5 separate regions of the Homo sapiens genome follow, and regions 1, 2, 4 and 5 are each linked to region 3. The links come from fine-mapping of genetic effects on gene expression. A gene starts in region 3. Each other region holds a variant in brackets. All regions are shown on one strand. Distances are from middle to middle. Region 1 overlaps LAMC3 (laminin subunit gamma 3). Region 2 overlaps LAMC3 (laminin subunit gamma 3). Region 3 holds the start of LAMC3 (laminin subunit gamma 3). Region 4 holds the start of LOC124902289 (a long non-coding RNA gene). Region 5 overlaps LAMC3 (laminin subunit gamma 3).

Region 1 (4,000 bases), 60 kb before region 3:
GCTGGCCCCACTGGTTTCTAGAAAAGGATTGCAGGCCTGAACTATCTCCAGTCTGGAGTACGAAAGAGACAGAGGCTTACCAAGGCTGTTGCCTGCCCAGACACATGACAATGAATGGAGTTGGGGGAGGGGAACCCCAATGGGTTAACCCTAGAGCTTGAACTCCGGACTTCTGCACCAGCCACCTTCCCACTCAGAATCACCTCCTGTTAACCCTCTTTACCAAGGGGTCATCTGTGGTCTCATCCCCACCGAACCTGAGAGAGTGAGACCCCAGCCTGGCGTGGTGGGGAAAGGCAGGTGACAAGAGTCACATTTCCCCCATCCACCTAGAGCAGGGGAAGGGCCGAGGTGAGGGTCGAGCCAGGCTGGAACAGGCCTGAAGCTGGGTGGGCACAGGGAGAAGGTAGGTGGTGGGCTTGCAAAGCCTGAGCACTGGGGGTAAGCAGGCAGTTCCTGGTGCCCGGCATAGAGCTGGCACTTGCTGGGAATACAGAATGAATGGAAAGGTGAGTGGGTCTGGGCCGACTCACCTCCTCCTTCACCAGGGCGTAGCAGGACGGACATTGCTGGCAGTGTGTGCCGTCTGCCGTGAGGAAGAAGTTGTCGTGGCAGCGGTCACATTTGTAGCCCTCGAAGCCAGGCCTGCACACGCATGTGCCGTTCTCGTGGCACTGGGCCGAGGCAGCGCCCAGTGGGGAGCACCTGCAGGCTAGAGGGGCCAGGGGCAGTGCGTGCTGGGTTTAGAGGGGCCAGGGGCAGTGCGTGCTGGGTTTAGAGGGGCCAGGGGCAGTGCGTGCTGGGTTCTGGGTGTTCCCAGAATGCCCTAGGCAGCATCAAAAACATTCCTGGGCCCTTCCCTGGAGATTCTGATTCAGAAGGTTGAAGGTGGCACAGAGCCTGGCTTATTCCAATGTTCCCTCGGGATCTGAGGACCAGCCAGGTTTAGGAACTGCCAATGCAGCCCAACTCTACAGGTGAGGAAACTGAGGCCCAGAGAGTGACATGATGGCCCCAGGCACACAGGCACTTAACAGCGCGTCTGGGACTACATTCCTGGCCGGCATGAGGACACTGGCAGGCTGCAGAGGGCCAGAGACTTGGGCGAGGGTCACAAGCACAGCCCTGCACCCACTGCTCTGGGTCATGTGACTCTGCTGTCCCGGCCACTGCCACGGGAGCAACTCGCTCCATGCTTCCGGCTGCTCTCGGGACCCTGTCCCATGTCTGACGATCCTTTCCTGCTGCGCCCATTTTCCCCATCAGTCATCTCTGCCCAGAGACCCTCGGGCCCCACCCTCAGGGCAGCCCGGGAAGGACCCAGCCTCCTTACCCCGGCAGCCCTTGATGGAGAAGCCGAAGAAACCCAGCTGGCACCTGTCACAGGCCTGGCCTGTGACACCTGGGCGGCAGGTGCACTGTCCAGTCTTGGGATGGCACTGGTCCTCCTGGGAGCCCAGTGGGTGACACTTGCAGCTGTGATCAGGGAAGGAACTGGGTCTGAGGCAAGCTCAGGGCCACTCCTGGCCCAGCCTCTGCCGGCTGCAGCTGGCTGGGGCCTCAGATCACAGCCCTCTGCTGACAAGACCCCATCTCCTCTCGGTGCATGGCACAGCTTCCCCAGCTGTGCTCTGGAAAGCACAAGTTTCCCAGGATGCTCAGGGAGAAAAGAAGATAAAATAAGGCTATGGGGACAAACGTGTCTCGGGGAGACTATACCCCTCTGTTGGAAAGTCATGATGCAATCAGCATAGTAAGAGCTCTGAGAAGTCCTGCAAGGAAGAAACCTGTTTGCTCCACTTGGTGTTTCCCTGGAGTCCTCCTGTTCCCTAAGAACACTTGTCTAAGGTGCTACTGTGGCCAAAAGGCCACCCAGGGAGAGTGTCACTGAGAA[G/C]GGAATCAGAGACCAAACCGGCCACCTGCCTGCCTGGACACCCTTTAGGGCTGCTCTTGGCCTGCATCCTGGGCTGGCAGGAGCATGAGTCGGATGCCAAGAGTCCATCCCTTTGCTCCCCTTCGGCAAAGGGCACAATGTGCCTGGCAGTGGGCCTAGGACAACACCTTCCAAACCAGGCCCCTCCCTGGGGGCTGCCCGATGCCTTCTTCCCTCCTGGAGAGGTCCCCAGGGCACCGGCAGTCTCACCCTACCTACCTCCGGCAGCCCCTCCCAGGCTGGAGGTCGAAGAAGCCAGGGTAGCAGCGGCTGCAGTCCCGTGCAGTCACATGAGGCAGGCAGGAGCATTGGCCTGTCACTGGGTCGCAGGGCATCTGCTCACTGACCGAGCCCTGTGGGTGACAGCTGCAAGCTGGGGGCAGGAGCAGGAAGGGGTGTTGGGAACAATGCAGATTGTCTGTTCCAACTTTGGGGGTCCAACAGAGGCAGAGGAGATGGGGGAGCCTCCAGAGATGATACGGCACATTCAGCCCAGATTCAGACGCCACTGCTGGAAAAAGGCTCCAGGGCCAAGCTCAAGCCTCAGCCCATTGACTATATCCTTAGAGGGACAGCCCAGGACGGTCATGGTAACAGACAATCCTTCTGAGCCTGCCCTGAGCCCTGGCAGGCTGCAGAGGGCCAGAGACTTGGGCGAGGGTCACAGGCACAGCCCTGCACCCATGGCTCTGGGTCCCGTGACCCTGTTCTCCTGGCCACTGCCAGGGGAGCATCTCACTCTGGGCCAGAGCGGTGTTTCCTGCAGGGGTTCCACAAAGCGAGAGTGAGCAGGAGCCGGCAGCTGCTGCGTGGGAAAGGGCTCCAAGCACATCAGTGTGGAGCAAAGGCTGAGCTTCCCTCCTGCAGGGCTCTGGGAGCCTCCCAGGGGCTGAGTGTTAACTGAGGTGATGAGGGGAGGCATGGCCATGGAGACCCGGCGCAGGGCGATCACCGGGTCAGCCATACGTGCTGACTGCAGAGTGGGAGGTAAGCACTAGACAATCCAGGCTTCGGATCAGAGTTTATAAGATCTCCCGGCTGAAAGAGACCTGGGAGAGGGGCAAACCCTTGTGCTTTCTGGACATGGAGACAGGAAGGGAAGTGACCTGCCTGAGGCTGGACAGCCTTGCAGAGGAGCCAGCTGGTTCTGGTGGGTTCCTCAGCCACCCCTTCTGGGCCCTGAGCCAGGGCAGAAGAGAAGGGGCCCACCATGTGCCACCCTGGGGTCTGGAGGTAGGTACTCACGCATGCATTTGTCTGCGGGTCGAGGGGCCAGGGCGCTCCCGTAGAAGCCTTCCTGACAGTGCTCACAGTGGTCACCCGTGGTGTTGTGCAGGCAGCGCAGGCAGTGGCCAGACAGGGGGTCACAGTTGCCCACGGCATTGGGGTCCACGTTCCCGCTACACTGGCACTGGTGGCAGGGCTGGGGGTGCCCAAAGAGCCCCAGCGGGTCCCCAAAAAAGCCATCATCACAGACCTCACAGCGCCGCCCTGTGTGTAGAGGGAGCACGTGTGGGGAACACAGCTGGCTGGACCCACCAGGGATGAGGGTGGGTGTGAAGCAGAGCAAGCGTCCCTCCACCTTCCCCGGAGCAGCACGGGCTTGGGCAGGAGGACCTGGGACCGGCCCCCAGTGGCTGCCCACAGCTGTGTGGTCCTGAGCAAGCCACTGCGCCTCTAGGAGCTCAGGTTCCTCATCTCTAAAGCGGGGACAACAATGGCAGCTCCCCACAGGACTGTGGGGAGGATTCAGTGACATAATTTGTGAAAAGCGCTTAACATCCAGCCTGACATGTAGTAAGCACTCAGGAGTGGTGGCTATCATCACATATCTGTCCTCACACCCTCATCATCATCGTCACCATTATCTTCACCATCACCACTATCCCCAGCAGCACCTCAATCACCATGACCTTCTTCATCATCATCCTTATATTATTATTATTATTATTATTATTGAGATGGAGTCTCACTCTATCACCCAGGCTGGAGTGTAGTGTGGTACGATCTCGGCTCACTGCAACCTCTGCCTCCTGGGTTCAAGCAATTCTCCTGCCTCAGCCTCCC
Region 2 (4,000 bases), 33 kb before region 3:
GCCTGTAGCAATTACCACTGTGAGGTCTGAACAGTGGTTTTCCAGTTCCTTCATTTCTACATTCATTACTTGGAATTCTTCTGCAAGGAAGGTTTGTCTCTTCATGCCCATCTATTTATGTATTCAATCATCTATTTACATCAGTATGGATTCGTGGATTTGACTTTATTCTCTGGGTTATAATCCAATACTATCGTTTATTTTGTTGCTCAAATTGTTTCAGCCCTGAGAGCTCTTTCACGTCGGCTCCTGTGTCCTTTTGACATGGGCCCACGTTCTGGTTTGGGCTGTTTTGTTTGTGTCTGTCTCTGTTTTTCAGCATTTCCTTGCTTCCTGGCACTGTAAGACGCCTTGGGCTTATCTTGTCTTTTTCCAGCCCCAGCCCCAGAATCTGCCACTTCTCCAAGCAGCTCTGGTGAATGTCAGACACAAAGCCAGGAAGAAGAGATAGTGTGTACCCAAGGAGCTAAACCCATGTTTGTCTGCTGGCCGCACTGCTGGAGCTTGGAGGCCTCTTGAACACTTGAAAGAGGAAGTTTATGTACTTCCTGGCCTTGGGAGAGCCCCTTTGACTTGCAGAGCTTCAGATGCCCCATTTGTACCATGATCAGACTGCAAAGATGGCAAACAGGCTCAAAATCCAGCTCAGTGGGTAGGGGCTTCCTGAAGCAGGGTGTTAAGAAGGATCCTGAGGTTATAGTAGGGCTCATGGCCAAGACTGCTGTGCCCCATTAGTGATGTCTGTTGTGGGTGTGAAAGGGGAGGGTTGTGATAGTGTTGCCTTAGTGATGTCTGCCATGGGTATGCCATCAGTGATGTCTGCCATGGTGTGAAAGGGGAGAGTTGATGGTGCTCCATTAGTGATGTCTGCTGTGGGTATGAAAGGGGAGGGTTGTGATAGTGCTCCCTTAGTGATGTCTGCCATGGGTATGCCATTAGTGATGTCTGTTGTGGGTGTGAAAGGGGTGTGTTGACAGTGCTCCATGAATGATGTCTGCTATGGGTGTGAAAAAGAAGGGTTGTAGTAGTGCTTCATTAGTGATGCCTGCCATGGCTATGAAAGGGAAAGTTTGATATGGCACCATTAGTGATGTCTGCCATGGCTGTGAAAGGCAAGGGTTGATAGTGCTCCATTAGTGATGCCTGCTGTGGGTATGAAAGGGGGAGGCTGTGATAGTTCTCCATTAGTGATGTTTGCCATGGTTATACCATTAGTGATGTCTGCTGTGGGTGTGAAAGGGGTGCATTGACAATGCTCCATGAGTGATGTTGGCCGTGAGTGTGAAAAGGGAGGGTTGTGATAGTGCTCCATTAGTGATATCTGCTGTGGGTAAGAAAGGGGAAGACTGTGATAGTGCTCCCTTAGTGATGTGTACCATGGGTATACCATTAGTGATGTCTGCTGTGGGTGTGAAAGGGGTGTATTGACAGTGCTGCATGAGTAATGTCTATTGAGTGTGAAAAGGGAGGGCTGTGATAGGTCTGCCGTGGGTGTGAAAGGGTTGTGATAGTGCTCCGTTAGTGGTGTCTGTCATGGGTGTGAAAGGGGAGCGTTGATAATACTCCATGAGTGATGTCTGCTGTGGGTGTGAAACGGGAGGCCTGTGATAGTGCTCCATTAGCTATGTCTGCAGTGAGTGTGAAACGGGAGGCCTGTGATAGTGCTCCATTAGCGATGTCTGCCACAGCAGGTGGTAGTACGAGCACCATCTATTTACTATCCCTGGATTAGATGGTCTCTCCTATCATTCCAGTTCTTTCTTTTCAGGATTCTAAGCTAAGACATGTATTTTCTCAGCTTATGAATGATCAGTGGTGTTGAATCAAAGCACAAACAGTGCCATAAAGCTTTTGAGTAACTTCCTGTATGACAGA[T/C]ACATGGTGCCCCAGGAAGGGCACAGGGTGACAAGGTCACCCAAGTCCATGAAGACCGTGCCCCTTGCTCCTCCCCGCACTCCACAGCTTTGGTGCCTCATCAGTGAGCCCCCAGGTCACTTCCAGCAAGCTTACTGCTGGATTAGCTCACAAACCTGTCACATAGGTTGCCTTCCACATTCTCTTTGCAGGGGCAGCGCCCACTGCGGGGGTCACAGGTGTCCAGGCTGCCAGCGGGATTGCAAGTGCAGGGTCTGCCAATGAGACAGGACAAGAGGAAAATGTGCAATGAGCAAATTCAGAATGGCAACAGCCCATCCTAGGAAGGGAGCTTTCCCTGCTGCCAACATCAGGAGTGAGGCTGACGCAGGTAACTGACCTGGCTTTACTGTTCCCATCTTGCCAAGGAAGTGACCCATCCATCACTGGTACAGTGGTCCATCTTCCCACCCACCACACATCCATCCAGGATCCTTCCATCTGTCATCCACGCACTCACTCATCATCCATGAATCTTTTTTTTTGGGACAGAGTCACACTTTGCCACCCAGGCTGGAGCGCAGTGTCATGATCTTGGCTCACTGCAACCTCTGCCTCCTGGGTTCAAGTGATTCTCCTGTCTCAGCCTCCTGAGTAGTTAGGACTACAGGCATGCATCACCATGTCCAGCTAATTTTTGTATTTTTAGTAGAGACAGGGTTTCACCATGTTGGCTAGACTGGTCTTTAACTCGTGACCTCAGGTGATCCACCTGCCTTGGCCTCCCAAAGTGCCAGGATTACATACATGAGCCACCGTGCTCGGCCTCCATGAATCTTTCTGTCTATCCCCTCACTCCTCCATCCACTTATTCATCCTTCCTTCTTTCTGTCCAGCAGCCACCTATCCACCCATTCATTCACCCATCCATGCATCTTTCCATCCCTCCCTCCATCCATCCACTCATCTAATAAGACATGGTTCCTCCCTGGTGAATCCCAGTCTGGTGTAGACAGACAGATCACGCAGACCCTGTACCGCGATACGTGTTGTGGGAGATGTACGAGAGGCTGTGCCTGCACTGTGGGGCCTCTGACTCAGCCTGGGTGTGCAGGCGAGGGGCAGGTGGGAGGGAAGGTGTCCCGAGAGCGGGGCTGCTCAGCTGAGACCTGAAGAATGAGCAGGAGGCTGTGAGCCACAGGCTGGGGAGAGGGGGCAGGGGTGGGAGGTGTGGCACCTGCAAAGGTCCAGAGGACAGAGGGACCCCAGGGAAGCAGCCAGGCCCCATCTCATGGTCAGTTTTATGCCCAGAACCACCAAATATTTTACAAGGAATCAGAGCTCTCCTAGATATCCCCAATGTGTTTCTGCTGCCTCTCAAATATACAAAGATGCCCGTTATCAACCAAAGCAAGTTCACTTAAAAGTGCTTCTGGGCCAGGCGCGGTGACTCACGTCTGTAATCAGCACTTTGGGAAGCCGAGGAGGGTGGATTACTTGAGCCCAGGAGCTTGAGACCAGCTTGGGCAACATGGCAAAACCCCATCTCTACCAAAAAATACAAAAATTAGCCGGGTGTGGTGGTGCACATTTGTAATCTCAGCTACTCAGGAGGCTGAGATGAGAGGATCACTTGAGTCTGGGAGGCGGAGGTTGTAGTGAGTAGAGATCGCGCCACTGCACTTCAGCCTGGGTGACAGAGGAGGACTCCATCTTAAAAAAAAAAATAGAGATAGTGGGCATGGTGGTGCATGCTTGTAATCCCAGCTACTCAGAAGGCTGAGGCAGAGAATTGCTGGAACCGGGGAGGTGGAGGTTGCAGTGAGCCAAGATGGCACCACTGCATTCCAGCCTGGTTGACAAAACAAGAATCTGTCTCAAAAAAAAAAAAAAAAAGCTTCTAAATTTATCATAGGTTTTTGTTTTGTTTTGTTTTTGTTTTTTGGCCATTGTATACTTTCTCAATCAAGTGATGGCAAATGTGTTGGGGTAAGGTCCAGACCCCAGGAGCCCCTGTCCCTCTCTCCCCTCAGCTGTCCCACTAGGTACCAAACTCGGTGCACCCAGATGACACTCAGCCTCTCCCACCCCGCTCCCCACACTGCGTGCCCTGCTATCCAGAGGCCCAGAGAACCCCGAAGGTCAG
Region 3 (4,170 bases):
TGGAGATCTAAGGGCTTCTGCACCTCGGCAAGTCATGAGCAGGGCAGAGAGGCCATGCCACCGGGCGCAGCTGCCCAGCAGCACGAAGAAACTTAGTCCTCCTCCCCAGAGGGTTAAACTTTGCCTGTGCAGTGATGAACATCACAGCTTCTATCTTCCAGAACCCACCCGAGGACTGCAGGCAGCTTCAGGGGTCCACTGAATACCTGAAGTTGACCAGAAGACCCAAGATCAGGAGCCCCTGCCCTAGAGGGTGACCAATTCAGTCCTTGGTGTGTCACCTCCCCAACAGTTCTGGTCTAGGATGGAAAACCATTACAGGGGATTATAATTGCAACCTAGAACCAAAGCTCAGCAAGTGACTCCCTGCCTCTCCCGCCCCACGGGGCACCCCTCAGTCTATCCTTCTGGCTATCTAGGGGTACAGGTCCTGTTTTTTTTTCTTCTTTTTTTCATTCTTTCTTTTTATTAAGAGATAAGGTCTCACTCTGTAGCCCAGGCTGTAGCACAGTGGCACTATCATATTTCATGCAGCCTCAACCTCTCAGTCTTAAGTGATCCTCCTGCCTCAGCCTCTTGAGTAGCTGGGACCATAGGTGTGCACCACCACGCCCAGCTTTTTTTTTTTTTTTTTTTTTTTTTTGAGACGGAGTTAGCTCTGTTGCCCAGGCTGGAGAACGGTGGTGCGACCTCGGCTCACGGCAACCTCCACCTCCCGGGTTCAAGCGATTCTCCTGCCCCAGCCTCCTGAGTAGCTGGAACTACAGGCACCTACCACCACGCCCGGCCAAATTTTCTATTTTTAGTAGAGACGGGTTTTCACCATGTTGGCCAGGCTGGTCTCGAACTCCTGACCTCAGGTGATCCGCCCGCCTCGGCCTCCCAAAGTGCTGGGATTACAGACGTCAGCCACCGCGCCCGGCCTATTTTTCTTTATTTTTTGTAAAGATGGGATCTCACTACGTTGCCCAGGCTGATCTTGAACTCCTGGGCTCAAGCGACCCTCCCATCTCGGCCTCCCAAAGTGCTGGGATTTCAGGAGTGAGCCACCGCACCCAGCCTAATTCCTATTTCTGAGCCCCTCCATCCAACACCATATCTGGGTCCTGCAGCCCAACCTGGGCGCACAGCAGCTCAGGCCTCAGCCTCAGACCCCCAGTGGAGTGGGGACACGGGGTGCGGTGGCGGTGCCCCCAGCCCGCGCTTACCTAGGCGGAGGGTGATGTTGACCGAGGTGGGGTACTGCACGCCGAAGGCCATGGACGGGCTCTGCCACCAGGTGCTCTCGTCCTGGCTGTGGAAGTCGGTGAGGTAGGAGGCGTTGTGGTGGCGCTGGGGGTCGGCGGCGTCGCAGCGCTGGCAATGAGCCCCCGCGCCCGCGGCGCCCACGTGGGGACAGAAGTCCTCGGGCGGGCTGCCGCACGTGTGCGAGGCCTGGGCGAGCCGCCCAAACGCCGCGTTCTCGAACACCGGCAGGCAGCGCTGCGGGCGCCCTGCGCCGTCATAGCACGCGCCCATGCCCGCGCCGGCCGCCCGCGGTGCCAGCAGCGCCAGCCCCAGCAGAAGCGCAGCCGCCGCCATGGTCAAGGGCACCGACGCCGCGCGCTCTGCCGGCCCCGCTCGGCTAGGGTGGGCGCGGACCGCGCGCTGGCCGCCAGGACCCGCCTTCCCCTGCGGGGCGGGGAGGCTGGAGGGAGGGGCGGGCGGCGGCGGCCCCACCCCACTAAAAATACCAGGGACCGCGCCGTCCCCGGGCGCCCACTCCCACCTGCTGGACGTGCCCGGCAGTGCGCGGCTCGGGAGTCTGCCCCAGAGGCGACCCGGGCCTCTTTGAGCCTCAGTTTCCTCGTCTGTGGAGTGGGGTCGGTAAAGATGCAGGCTCATTCTCGCCATTGGGAGGCTTCAATGGCTGCTCATTAAACAGAAACTGTTCAGCAGTGCCTTGGAGTCCTGAGATAAAAGGGGACAAGAGGATCTATCTCTAACTGATCGCTACCGTTTGCGCATCTCCTCCTAGCAATAAAGTGTGCCCTGGACAGGGTTGTGAGATGGCTCCGCATAGCTCCTGTCGCCCTTAACCCTGAAAAGCACTCCTGCTGCCGGCTGCGCTCTGTCCCCACAGCAAAGAGATTCTAACCTGACATTTGTGACAAGGGTACCTGGTCTTATCACAAATGTCACCTCAGAGAGGGCTTCCTTGTCTTCTGCCCCAACCCCCATAAATGCCCCCTTTACTCCCCATTTATTAACATTAGCAAATCGAGGGAGAGAAGTCATTCGATAAAATTTAGCAGCCAGGTCGTGCGCGGTGGCTCACGCCTGTAATCCTAGCACTTTGGGAGGTGGAGGCGGAAGGATAACTTGAGGCCAGGAGTTCGAGACCAACCTGGGCAAAATAGTGAGACCCTATCTCTACAAAAAAATACAAAAATTAGCCCGGCGTCATGGCACAAGCCTGTAGTCCCAGCTACCTGGGAGGCTGAGGTGGAAGGATCCCTTGAGCCCGGGAGGTTAGGCTGCAGTGGGCTGTGATCATGCCATTGCACTCCAGCCTGGCCAACAGAGTCAGACCCTGTCTCGAAAAAAAAAAAAAAAAAAAGGCAGCCATTCCCAGACGAACTCTAAGGAAAATAGAAATAAATTTCCTGGCCTGGCGCGGTGGCTCTCGCCTATAATCCCAGCATTTTGGGAAGTTGAGGAAGGCAGATCACCTGAGGTCAGGAGTTCGAGACCAGCCTGGCCAACATAGTGAAACCCCGTCTCTACTAAAAACACAAAAATTAGCTGGGTGTGGCGGTGCGTGCCTGTAATCCCAGCTACTCAGGAGGCTGAGGCAGGAGAATTGTTTGAACCCGGGGGGCAGAAGTTGCAGTGAACTGAGATCATGCCATTGCACTCCAGCCTGGGCAACAAGAGAGAAACTCCATCAAAAAAAAAAAAAAGAAAGAAAAGAAAGAAAGAAAATTTTTGGAAGCAAGATGAACTGTAGTGGGCTGATTCACTACCAGTTATTTACACATGATTAAAACAATACGGTTGTGGAAAGGACTACAGAATAGACCCATGGAATAAGTTAGAGATTTCAGAACTATATCTAAGTAGAGTTAGTATATGATATCACCACTGGTACCTAAGGTTATTTTGGAAGTTCTAGCTAATACAATAAGACAAAAAACTTAAAAGATATAAATATTTATATCTTCTACTTACCTGAACATACATCTAGAAAATCTAAAAGATTCTACTAAGACTATTAAAATTAATAAGAGCTCCGTAAGATGGCTGACTACAGGATAGAGTACGAAAACCAATGCCAGCAATAGGCATTTTCTGGCTGGGTGCGGTGGCTCACGCCTGTAATCCCAGCACTTTGGGAGGCTGAGGCAGGCAGATCACCTGAGGTCATGAGTTCGAGACCAGCCTGGGCAATATGGTGAAACCCCATCTCCACTAAAAATACAAAAATTAGCCAGGCATTGTGGCACACCTGTAATCCCAGCTACTTGGAAGGCTGAGGCACAAGAATCGCTTGAATTCAGGAGACAGAGGTTGCAGTGAGCCGAGGTCACGCAAATGCACTCCAGCCTATGCAATAGAGCAAGACCCTGTTTTTTAAAAAACAAAACAAAAACAAAACAAAACAAACAAAAAACTGATGCCAGCAATGATGTAGGAAATGGTAGAACACCTAATAATAAATCTGGTATGAAATGTGCAAGATATAAATGAATCAAATTATAAAATGCTACTGAGAGACAGAAAACCTGAAGAGACCAGCATCTATATTCACGGATTTCCAACTGTTTAAATATACAAATTCTCCCCAAGTTAAAATATCATTTAATGTAATTCCAAATTGTTTTTTTGATGGTGTTATGGAAGCTTCTTTGTTAAAGTTTTCTCTTATGGTCAAGAACATGATTGCAGCAGACTCTTGATGGTCCACGCAGCTACCCTGAGCTGGGCTGTGCACCCATCCAAAGCAAATTCATCTATCAGGCACAGGAAACATGGCAGCCCACAGGAATTCTAGGAACCCACAAAAACTGTTCTAATATCTTTAAAGTCAGAAGAAAAAAAAGAACTTTTAGGCTGAAGAACATGTTTTAACGTATGATATTAATATACCCGTCTTTAGATCAATGCAATGGTTAAATATAATTTTTAAAA
Region 4 (4,205 bases), 85 kb before region 3:
GAGGGAAGTGCCCAGCAAGGGGCTAGGCAGAATGGGATGGGGCTGAGGTCAGGGCAGCAGTCCAGGGGGCAGGCCCCTCCTCCCCAGTAAGACCAGCGCCCACCTCTCCTAGCTGACGCTCCTCTGTCCACTCACCCAAGGGTTTGGATTTGGCCAAGCTGCATGACCTTAGGCGAGGCACTTGATCTGGCTGAGCTTCAGTCCCCTGATCTTCACAATGAAGTAACCCAGAACGCACTAAGCAGGGGCTTTTGTAACTTTGATGACTTGCTGGATGGTTTAAGCAGAGAGTAAAAGCTTAGCGTTACCACCCTTGGTGGATGGGAGCTGACTTAGGACAGAGCCCTCATAATGCACTTCCCTCTCCAGGCTCCAACAGCCTATTGCCCTGGCCGGTTGGGCTGGTTGGCTCCAGTCAGCCATCCTACAGGGCAGGGGCCACCCCACCTTCTGCTCAGCTGCTGGACTGCATTGCTAGCCAGATGTTCAACAGCTGCCGCATTCCACCCGGCAGCGGCCCCACCTCTGGGGCCAGAGAATAGATCAGCACATGCACCAGGCATGATCAGACTGCGTGAGTCACAACATGTCAGGCCCGAGTTCTCCACCCGTCGGGGATGCTGGGACTGAGCTGAGCTGGATCCCACGGCTTGAGTGGATAAAGGCTGAGTGCCAAGAGCAGGCACCAGGACGACTGTGTGCCATCGGCTGAGAAACTGGAGGGAGGCGGGAGGGGGACATCAGACCCTATCCCAGAGGTCTTGGAAGAACTCCATATTCTCGACATCACTTACACCAGACGCCAATCACCAAACTCACTGTGCAGCAGCAGCTCCCCCATCTTCGGCCTCTCCACCTCTGCCCAGACATCTAGGGACCAAGTCACTCCTAGCTCAGTTTAATCATGTCAATCCCCCACCGTAGCCTTGATTTTACAGTTTTCTGTGGAGGAGCACACCTCTTCTCTGAACACCATCTCCCATTAGGTTGGGGGGTGGCACCGGTCATCCATTATTGGCCTTAGATCCAGAGATCCTCATTATCCTGAACGGGGGTTGGTGGGACTTCACCTAAGCTGAGAAGCTGGAATCAGGACAGAGTCACCAGCTTGTCTCTTGCAAGCACTGGACCTGATGACATGTACACCTGGGGCCATTATGGGGGATGGCGGTAGGGGTGGGTGTCCTCTCCTATCAGGCACAAGAAAAACAAAGAAAGCCACTCTGCAAAGAGAAAAGAATGGGCCGGTTGCAGTGGCTCATGCCTGAAATCCCAGAACTTTAAGAGGCCAATGCAGGTATATCATCTGAGGTCAGGAGTTTGAGACCAGCCTGACCAACGTGGTGAAACCCTGTCTCTACTAAAAATACCAAAATTAGCTGGGCATGGTGGCAAGCACCTGTAGTCCTAGCTACTCGGGAGGCTGAGGCAGGAGAATTGCTTAAACCTGGGAGGTGGAGGATGCAGTGGGCAGAGATCATGCCACTGCACTCCAGCCTGGGCAACAGAGCGAGACTCCATCTCAAAAAAAATCAATAAATAAAGAGAAAAGAACGAAGCAGATACAGGAGAGGAGAGCAGAGACACAGACCAAGAAGAGAGGCGGGAGGGGGGAAGAGGGAAGCCAACCTATCCCGGAAGCCTCAGGCTCCCCTCCCTAGGCTATCTCCAACACGTGGCAGCCGTTTTTACTCCAGGGTTCCAAGCGACCCTCCCAACACCCCTTTTCTGCTGAAACCACCTCAGGAGGGGTTTGAGGCCTGCGGCCAAGAGCCCTGACTGAGCAGCTCCAACATCCCACCCCATTCAACCTGGGGTCCTGGAGTGATGCAAGCTGGCCGAGCCCCAACCCTGCGGGCCCCGGACTGTTGTCCACCCTCTTGCCTGGAATGCTTCCTTCTCTGCCTCCCCACCCTTCAAGGCCCCACCCACACCATCCCCCTCCTGGATGGCGCCCCTCCCTGCTCCTCACCATCCTCGGACACTTGGCTGTGAGTTCGTCTCGAGCCTGAACCAGAGGTCAGCTGAGGGCCTCTCCGCACCCCACCCCTCCAACTCACCAGCTCCTAGGCTTTACGTGGTAAGTGCCTGAGAGGACAGGGTAGGTACCTGTGATCACACAACCCCAGCAAAGCCCTCTAATGGGAGGTACTGGCCCAGCCACGAGCTCGGCTTTTGCCACCTTCCTACCAACGTCCGGTCCACATGCTGGCCACCTACTAGGTGTGTCATATGCACACCCACAGCCAGGGCCCTGGCTGCCCACCAGCCGGGGA[G/C]GGTGAGGCACACCACCCTGCCCAGTGAAAGGGTCCTTTATTTCCACGTTCAACGGAATTGGTCTGTGCTGCTGCCCTACCCCTGCCCCTGTCAGGGGAGCCACGGGAGGGGGCTGGGCCCGCAGAGGTGCCTGACTTCCCAATGCCGAGGCCTTGCCATCTGCTGGAAGAGGGTCTGGGAGAGGGGAGGGATGCCAAGAGGAAATGCTGAGGAGTCCTGGGCAGAGGCCAGCATGCGGGCCTGGCCACAGGGCGATTCCCAGACAGGACAGACTGGAATGGCAGCCAGGCTTGCACACCCTGGTGGCCTCCCGCATGGCAAGTGGTGCCGCAGGGCTGGTCTGGAAAGCGTCAATTAAAGGTCAACTGGGTTGCCGGGGGCACAGAGGCGTGCTCCTGGTAGCCTGAGCACCCTGACCTAGGCGCTTTTGGGCCTGGCTCTTTGGATAGATCACAGGCTGAAGTGGGTACAGGCCAGGGTGGGCCATTCCCTCAGGGCATCTGGTGCAGTCCCAGGACCCTGAGAGGGAAGCGTCCGGTGAAGGCAATGACACCCCCGCCAGGAATGGGCCTTGCTCTAGCCAGACTAGCAGGCCTGGCCACGGCCTCAGGGTCTCTGGGCCTCAGATTCTGCTGCTAAGAACCCTCCCGGGATCTTGCATTTCTTGGCCTGTTGGTCCCCTGGCTGTGTCGAGCTGTAGGGAGTGCACGCAGCAACACAGGTCAGGGAGCTGCTGTGAAACAGAGGGCAGCCAGCTCTGGGACTAGGGGCTTTGGCTGTTGCTGACCCCCTTGATCTCTGCAGATCTGCTGAGACCTCCCTGCTATCTGGAGTGAGTGGATGTAGCACCCCAGGGCATCTCATGTAACAACTTGCCCAACATCCAGAGGGTGTCCAGCACACAGGTGGCTCTCACAACAGCTGTGGACTGTAATGTGTGTGGACCGTAAGCTGCTGACTGGATGGATTAGACTTGAACACGTGTGGGTCATACACACAGACATGCACCCTCACGTGTGTATGTTATTGACACTGGGGTGTGCCCGTTTATGCATGTGCAGGGGTGAGAGTGTGCACTCATGTCCAGGTGAACTGGGTACGCACACTCAGTCCTGCTGGCAGGGAAGAAGCCACAGACAGAATCGGCAGGGAGTGACTATCCACACGGGGGCGAGTTCACAGCAGCCGGCTCCGGGGAATGTCTGTATGGGCACACCTGTGGGGTAGTGTGCACCCCCTGGGTCATGTAAACAGCAGGTGGGGGAGTGTGTGCCGGGGATCTGGGCAGCCCTCACTGCCAGCTGGCACAGTTCTCGGGCAGGCTGTGCAGAATGGCCTCCAGGTTCTGTTTGTCGGCGCGGATCTCGGCGAGGTCACTCTCGAAGCCCTGGATCTGCAGCTCCTGCTGCTGGGATTCCTGCTCCAGCAGACTGAGTTTCCTCTGCAAGGACCCCGGGGAGCCCAGCTGCAGCCTCAGGCGTTCTAGTGCCCACTGAGTCTCGTTCAGGGCCTGGGCTGGGGCTTGATGGGTGTCCAGCGACCCTGTGGTGGGGCACAAACAGCCTCACTGTGAGCCAGCAGCCCTGCAGGCCCCAGGGCACCTCCCAGCCCCTGAGCCTCTCCCCAGCTCAGGCCTCCCAGGATTCCAATGGCCCACCATCCACCAGGGAAAGATGGGGAGCAGAAGGGCTGGGAGGTGGGTGAGGACCCATAGCATCCCAACGGGCCCATGGGCAGACTCTAGAACATCCTCCTGGGTGGCACTTGACAAATGTCATTTTTGTTGATGGTTTTACTATTATTGTTAAAAAAGAAGGCCTCAGGTGAGTCCTCTCTGAGTCTTAGTTTACTCATTTACAAAACAGTGTGGGAGAAAGGCCCCTGTGATTTTTGCCAGCTTGAACATGCTGGCTCAATTCACTGACAGC
Region 5 (4,000 bases), 38 kb before region 3:
ATCTGCTTGGGGGCATGGTCAGACCTGGAAGCCTGCCCTGCCCTTTCAGTGGGGTTTTGAGCTCAGCATGAAGACAGCCTGAAGACCCCCACATGGGGGCCCTGGGACATCAGGGCCATCTCTAATAGTACCAGACTTGACCTCATCTTCAGGTTCTCAGAGAACTTTCTCACCTGTGACCTCATGAACCCTGTCCTTCCAGTGGCCCATGTCATTAACAGCACCTCAGGCAAGGAGGCCACCTGGTTAGGAAGGGGCCCAGCCACGACGGGAGCCCAGGCCTTCTGGTCCCCAGTGCCAGTTCAGTGCCTCCTCCCTCTGGCCACAGCAGTTAACACGGAGCACAGCCCAGCACACAGCGAGTGACCTTAAGGAGGTGCCTCTCCAGGGGGTAGCGGGCAATGAGGCAGAGGCCAAATACCTGGGGCAGCCAAGGGGTAAGAAGGAAGGAACGGAGTGGGGAAAGAGGTCAGAGAAAGGAAGATGTCAACATGAAGAGAAGTTTGCAGACAGGCATTTAGAAGGAACTAGAAGGCCAGGCACAGTGGCTCATGCCTGTAATCCCAGCACTCTGAGAGGCCGAGGTGGGTGGATCATCTGAGGTCAGAAGTTCGAGACCAGCCTGGCCAACATGGCGAAACCCCATCTCTGCTAAAAATACAGAAATTAGCCAGGCATGGTAGCAGCTGCCTATAATCTGAGCTACTCAGGAGGCTGAGGCAGGAGAATCGCCTGAACCCGAGAGGCGGAGGTTGCAGCGAGCTGAGATTGTGCCACTGCACTCCAGCCTGGGTGACAGAGCAAGACTCTGACTCAAAAAAAAAAAAAAAAAAAAAAAAAAATCAGCTGGGTGTGGTGGCTCACACCTATAATCCTAGCGCTCTGGGAGGCCGAGGCAGATGGATCATGAGGTCAAGAGATCAAGACCATCCTGGTCAACATGGCAAACCCCGTCTCTGCTAAAAAAATAAAATAAAAATAAATAAAAATAATAAAAATTTAAAAACTACTTGTTTTCTTTTTTTTTGAGACAGAGTCTCACCCTGTCACTCAGGCTGGAGTGCAGTGGCGCGATCTCGGCTCACTGCAACCTCTGCCTCCCAGGTTCAAGCGATTCTCCTGCCTCAGCCTCCCGAGTAGCTGGGATTACAGGAGCTGGCCACCACGCCTGGCTAATTTTTGTATTTTTAGCAGAGACGGGGTTTCGTCATGTTGGCCAGGCTGGTCTCGAACTCTTGACCTCAGGTGATCCGCTCCCCCCACCCCCACCCCGGCCTCCCAGAGTGCTGGGATTACAGGCGTGAGCCACTGCGCCCAGCCACAGTTTCCATTTCTAAGACAGCAAATATCCATACAAACCACCCACATAAACAAAAGCACTTTGGGGTTCTCAATAATTTTCAAGAGCATAAAGGGATCCAGAGGCCGGGTGCGGTGGCTCACACCTGTAATCCCAGCACTCTGGGAGGCTGAGGAGGGTGGATCAGTTGAGGTCAGGAGTTCAAGACCAGCCTGACCAACATGGTGAAACCCCCGACCTGTACTAAAAATACAAAAATAAGCTGGGCGTGGTGGTGGGTGCCTGCAGTCCCAGCTACACAGGAGGCTGAGGCAGGAAAATCACTTGAACCTGGGAGGCGGAGGTTGCAGAGAGCTGAGATCACGCCATTGCACTCCAGCCTGGGCAACACAGTGAGACTCCGTCTTAAAAAAAAAAAAAAAAAGAGGAATTCAGAGACCAAAAAGTTTTGAGAACTCCTGCGCAAGGGCAACTGTGAGACAAAATGAGATGACACCCCTGAAGGGCCGGCCACACCCAGTGCCTGGCCCAATGTGAGAACAGATCATGACACTGTTCTTAGGGTCTAGAAAATGAGTCCTGCCCAACGCTGACACCCTAGACCCCCGGACCCAGGACCCAGACACGCGGCGCCGGTCCGCGCATCTCTCGGTCCTGCTTTCTGCGCGGCTTCCAGCAGAGGGCGCGCGGCCCTCATGTCTGGGGCCGCCCCAGCGTCGGCCCTGAGGTTCTTCTGTTTCAGCTGATGCCTCGCTCCTTCCTGGGGACAGGCGGAAGGTGCGGGGCGCTCCGTGGGACATCGCTGGGGCCCACGCAGCCTCTGGTTTAATGCAGAGCTCCGAGCTCTGCTGCTTTCCTCTTTAAATATGCGGCTGTGCCACCTGGAGTCAGGGACCACGGTATA[G/A]GCCACCACAGCGGTTAAGGGCAAAACAGCTGGGCGCGGACACTCATAATCCCAGCACTTTGGGAAGCCGAGGTGGGCGGGATTGCCTGAGCTCAGGAGTTCTAGACCAGCCTGGGCAACATGGTAAGACCCCGTCTGTACAAAAAAAAAAAAAAAAAAAAAAAAAATACAAAAATTAGCTCGGCATGGTGGTGCACGCCTGTAGTCCCAGCATTTTGGGAGGCGGAGGTGGGCAGACTACTTGAGCCCAGGAGATTGAGACCAGCCTGGGTCTAAAGACATGGCAAAACCCTGTCTTTAGAAAAAAATATAAAAATTAGCCGGGCACGGTGGTGCACACCTGTGGTCCTAGCTACTCAGGAGGCTGAGGTGGGAGGATCACGTGAGCCCAGGGAGGTGGTGGCTGCAGTGAGCTGTGCTGTGCAATCTTGCACCACTGCACTTCAGCCTTGGTGACTCAGCAAGACCCTGTGTCCAAAAAAAAAAAAAAAAAAAAAAAAAAAAAGGAGCAAAACTCAGGAGCTGACAAATGCAGTGCTCACAACTGTTATGTGGCCTCAGGCAAGTGGCCTACCTTTTGTAGGTCTCAGTTACTTCATCATTGAAAGGGGAATGAGAATCCTTGCATGTTAGGTGCTCAGCACAGTGCCTGGCAAACAGCAGGTGCTCAATAAGTGGAGGCCAGGAGACTGAGCCTGAATCCCCAGTGTTTAGACACACCAAGGGAGGCCAGTCTCAACGGGGTGAGTGGGAAATTCCCCTACAGGATCCAAAAAGCGTCACGTACCCGGCCCCCAACCCCACCACGGGTATAAAGAGAAGAGTCAGGGACTGGGGAGGGAGCTGGGGGTCGCAGGTGGGCACTGGGGAGCCATCATCTCACCCCCGACCCCACCTAGGCTGTGCAGGCCTGTGGCTCCTCTCCACAATGGGAGATCCACTAATGCAAGATCTCCCCAGGGCAGGATCACCTGCCTAGGCTGGGAGCAGACCCTTGGGAGGCGTTTGCAGGGAGCATCTCTTACCCTGGTGGAAATCGCTGAGGATGTGATGCACCTGGAACTGGGCAGTGGACGCGCACACCTTGGAGTGGCCATAGCAGAAACAGCTGCTGCAGCCAGCTGGATTGTGGGGCTGCAGGTTAAAGGTCCCCGGGCGACATCTGAAATGGAGGCAGGACATGCCCACGAGGGCCACGTGAATCAGCCAGGAAGGGGCGGGGCCAGGGTATCCCAGCTGGACCAATGAGAGTCTAGAATCACTGCAGAAACTTAAAAACAATTTTTTTTCAGAATTCTAGAAGAGTAGTAAGAACATTACAGATTGTTCCCATACCTGCTTCAGACAGCCTCCCCTGATGCTGACATCTGACATTACCACAGTACATTTGTCAAAACTAAGTTAACTAAACTCCAGACTTTATTAGGTTTTGTTTTTTTGTTGTTGTTGTTTTTTTTTTTTTTTGAGACAGAGTCTTGTTCTGTGGCCCAGGCTGGAGTGCAATGGTGCAATCTTGGCTCACTGCAGCCTCCGCCTCCCGGGTTCAAGTGATTCTCCTGCCTCAGCCTCCCGGGTAGCTGGGATTGCAGGCGCCTGCCACCACACCCGGCTAATTTTTGTATTTTTAGTAGAAACGGGATTTCACCATGTTGGCAGGTTGACCTCGAACTCCTGACCTCAGGGGATCCGCCCGCCTCAGCCTCCCAAAGTACTGGGATTTCAGGCTTGAGCCACCGCGCCCAGCGACTTTAATAGGATTTCTCCACTTTTTCCTCTAATGTCTGGTTTCTGCTGCA

What was found. PIP is the estimated chance that this variant, and not a neighbour inherited with it, causes the effect.
Region 1: its variant is fine-mapped to the expression of LAMC3 in whole blood (TOPMed, PIP above 0.99).
Region 2: its variant is fine-mapped to the expression of LAMC3 in whole blood (TOPMed, PIP above 0.99).
Region 4: its variant is fine-mapped to the expression of LAMC3 in lung (TOPMed, PIP 0.98).
Region 5: its variant is fine-mapped to the expression of LAMC3 in blood mononuclear cells (TOPMed, PIP above 0.99). The same link has a PIP of 0.9 or more in whole blood.

Annotation. Positions count from the first base shown.
Region 1 is chr9:131,066,384-131,070,383 of GRCh38, reverse strand. It overlaps LAMC3 (laminin subunit gamma 3), which reads right to left. Exons shown (of 28, transcript NM_006059.4): 14 at 3,179-3,424; 15 at 2,153-2,306; 16 at 1,334-1,476; 17 at 534-712. Among named protein-coding and RNA genes, the nearest start is that of AIF1L, 28 kb to the left of the region's middle. RefSeq lists an enhancer at 917-1,426. The variant G/C (reference allele first, on the strand shown) is at 1,895.
Region 2 is chr9:131,039,766-131,043,765 of GRCh38, reverse strand. LAMC3 (laminin subunit gamma 3) reads right to left here. Exons shown (of 28, transcript NM_006059.4): 7 at 2,031-2,129. Among named protein-coding and RNA genes, the nearest start is that of LAMC3, 33 kb to the right of the region's middle. The variant T/C (reference allele first, on the strand shown) is at 1,876.
Region 3 is chr9:131,006,626-131,010,795 of GRCh38, reverse strand. It overlaps LAMC3 (laminin subunit gamma 3), which reads right to left and starts at 1,622. Exons shown (of 28, transcript NM_006059.4): 1 at 1,209-1,622. The coding sequence starts at 1,581.
Region 4 is chr9:131,091,151-131,095,355 of GRCh38, reverse strand. It overlaps LAMC3 (laminin subunit gamma 3), which reads right to left. Exons shown (of 28, transcript NM_006059.4): 28 at 883-3,819. The coding sequence ends at 3,569. It overlaps LOC124902289 (a long non-coding RNA gene), which reads left to right and starts at 1,984. Exons shown (of 3, transcript XR_007061825.1): 1 at 1,984-2,080. RefSeq lists enhancers at 529-1,030, 1,828-2,424, 2,425-3,023. The variant G/C (reference allele first, on the strand shown) is at 2,277.
Region 5 is chr9:131,044,890-131,048,889 of GRCh38, reverse strand. It overlaps LAMC3 (laminin subunit gamma 3), which reads right to left. Exons shown (of 28, transcript NM_006059.4): 8 at 3,230-3,366. Among named protein-coding and RNA genes, the nearest start is that of LAMC3, 38 kb to the right of the region's middle. The variant G/A (reference allele first, on the strand shown) is at 2,205.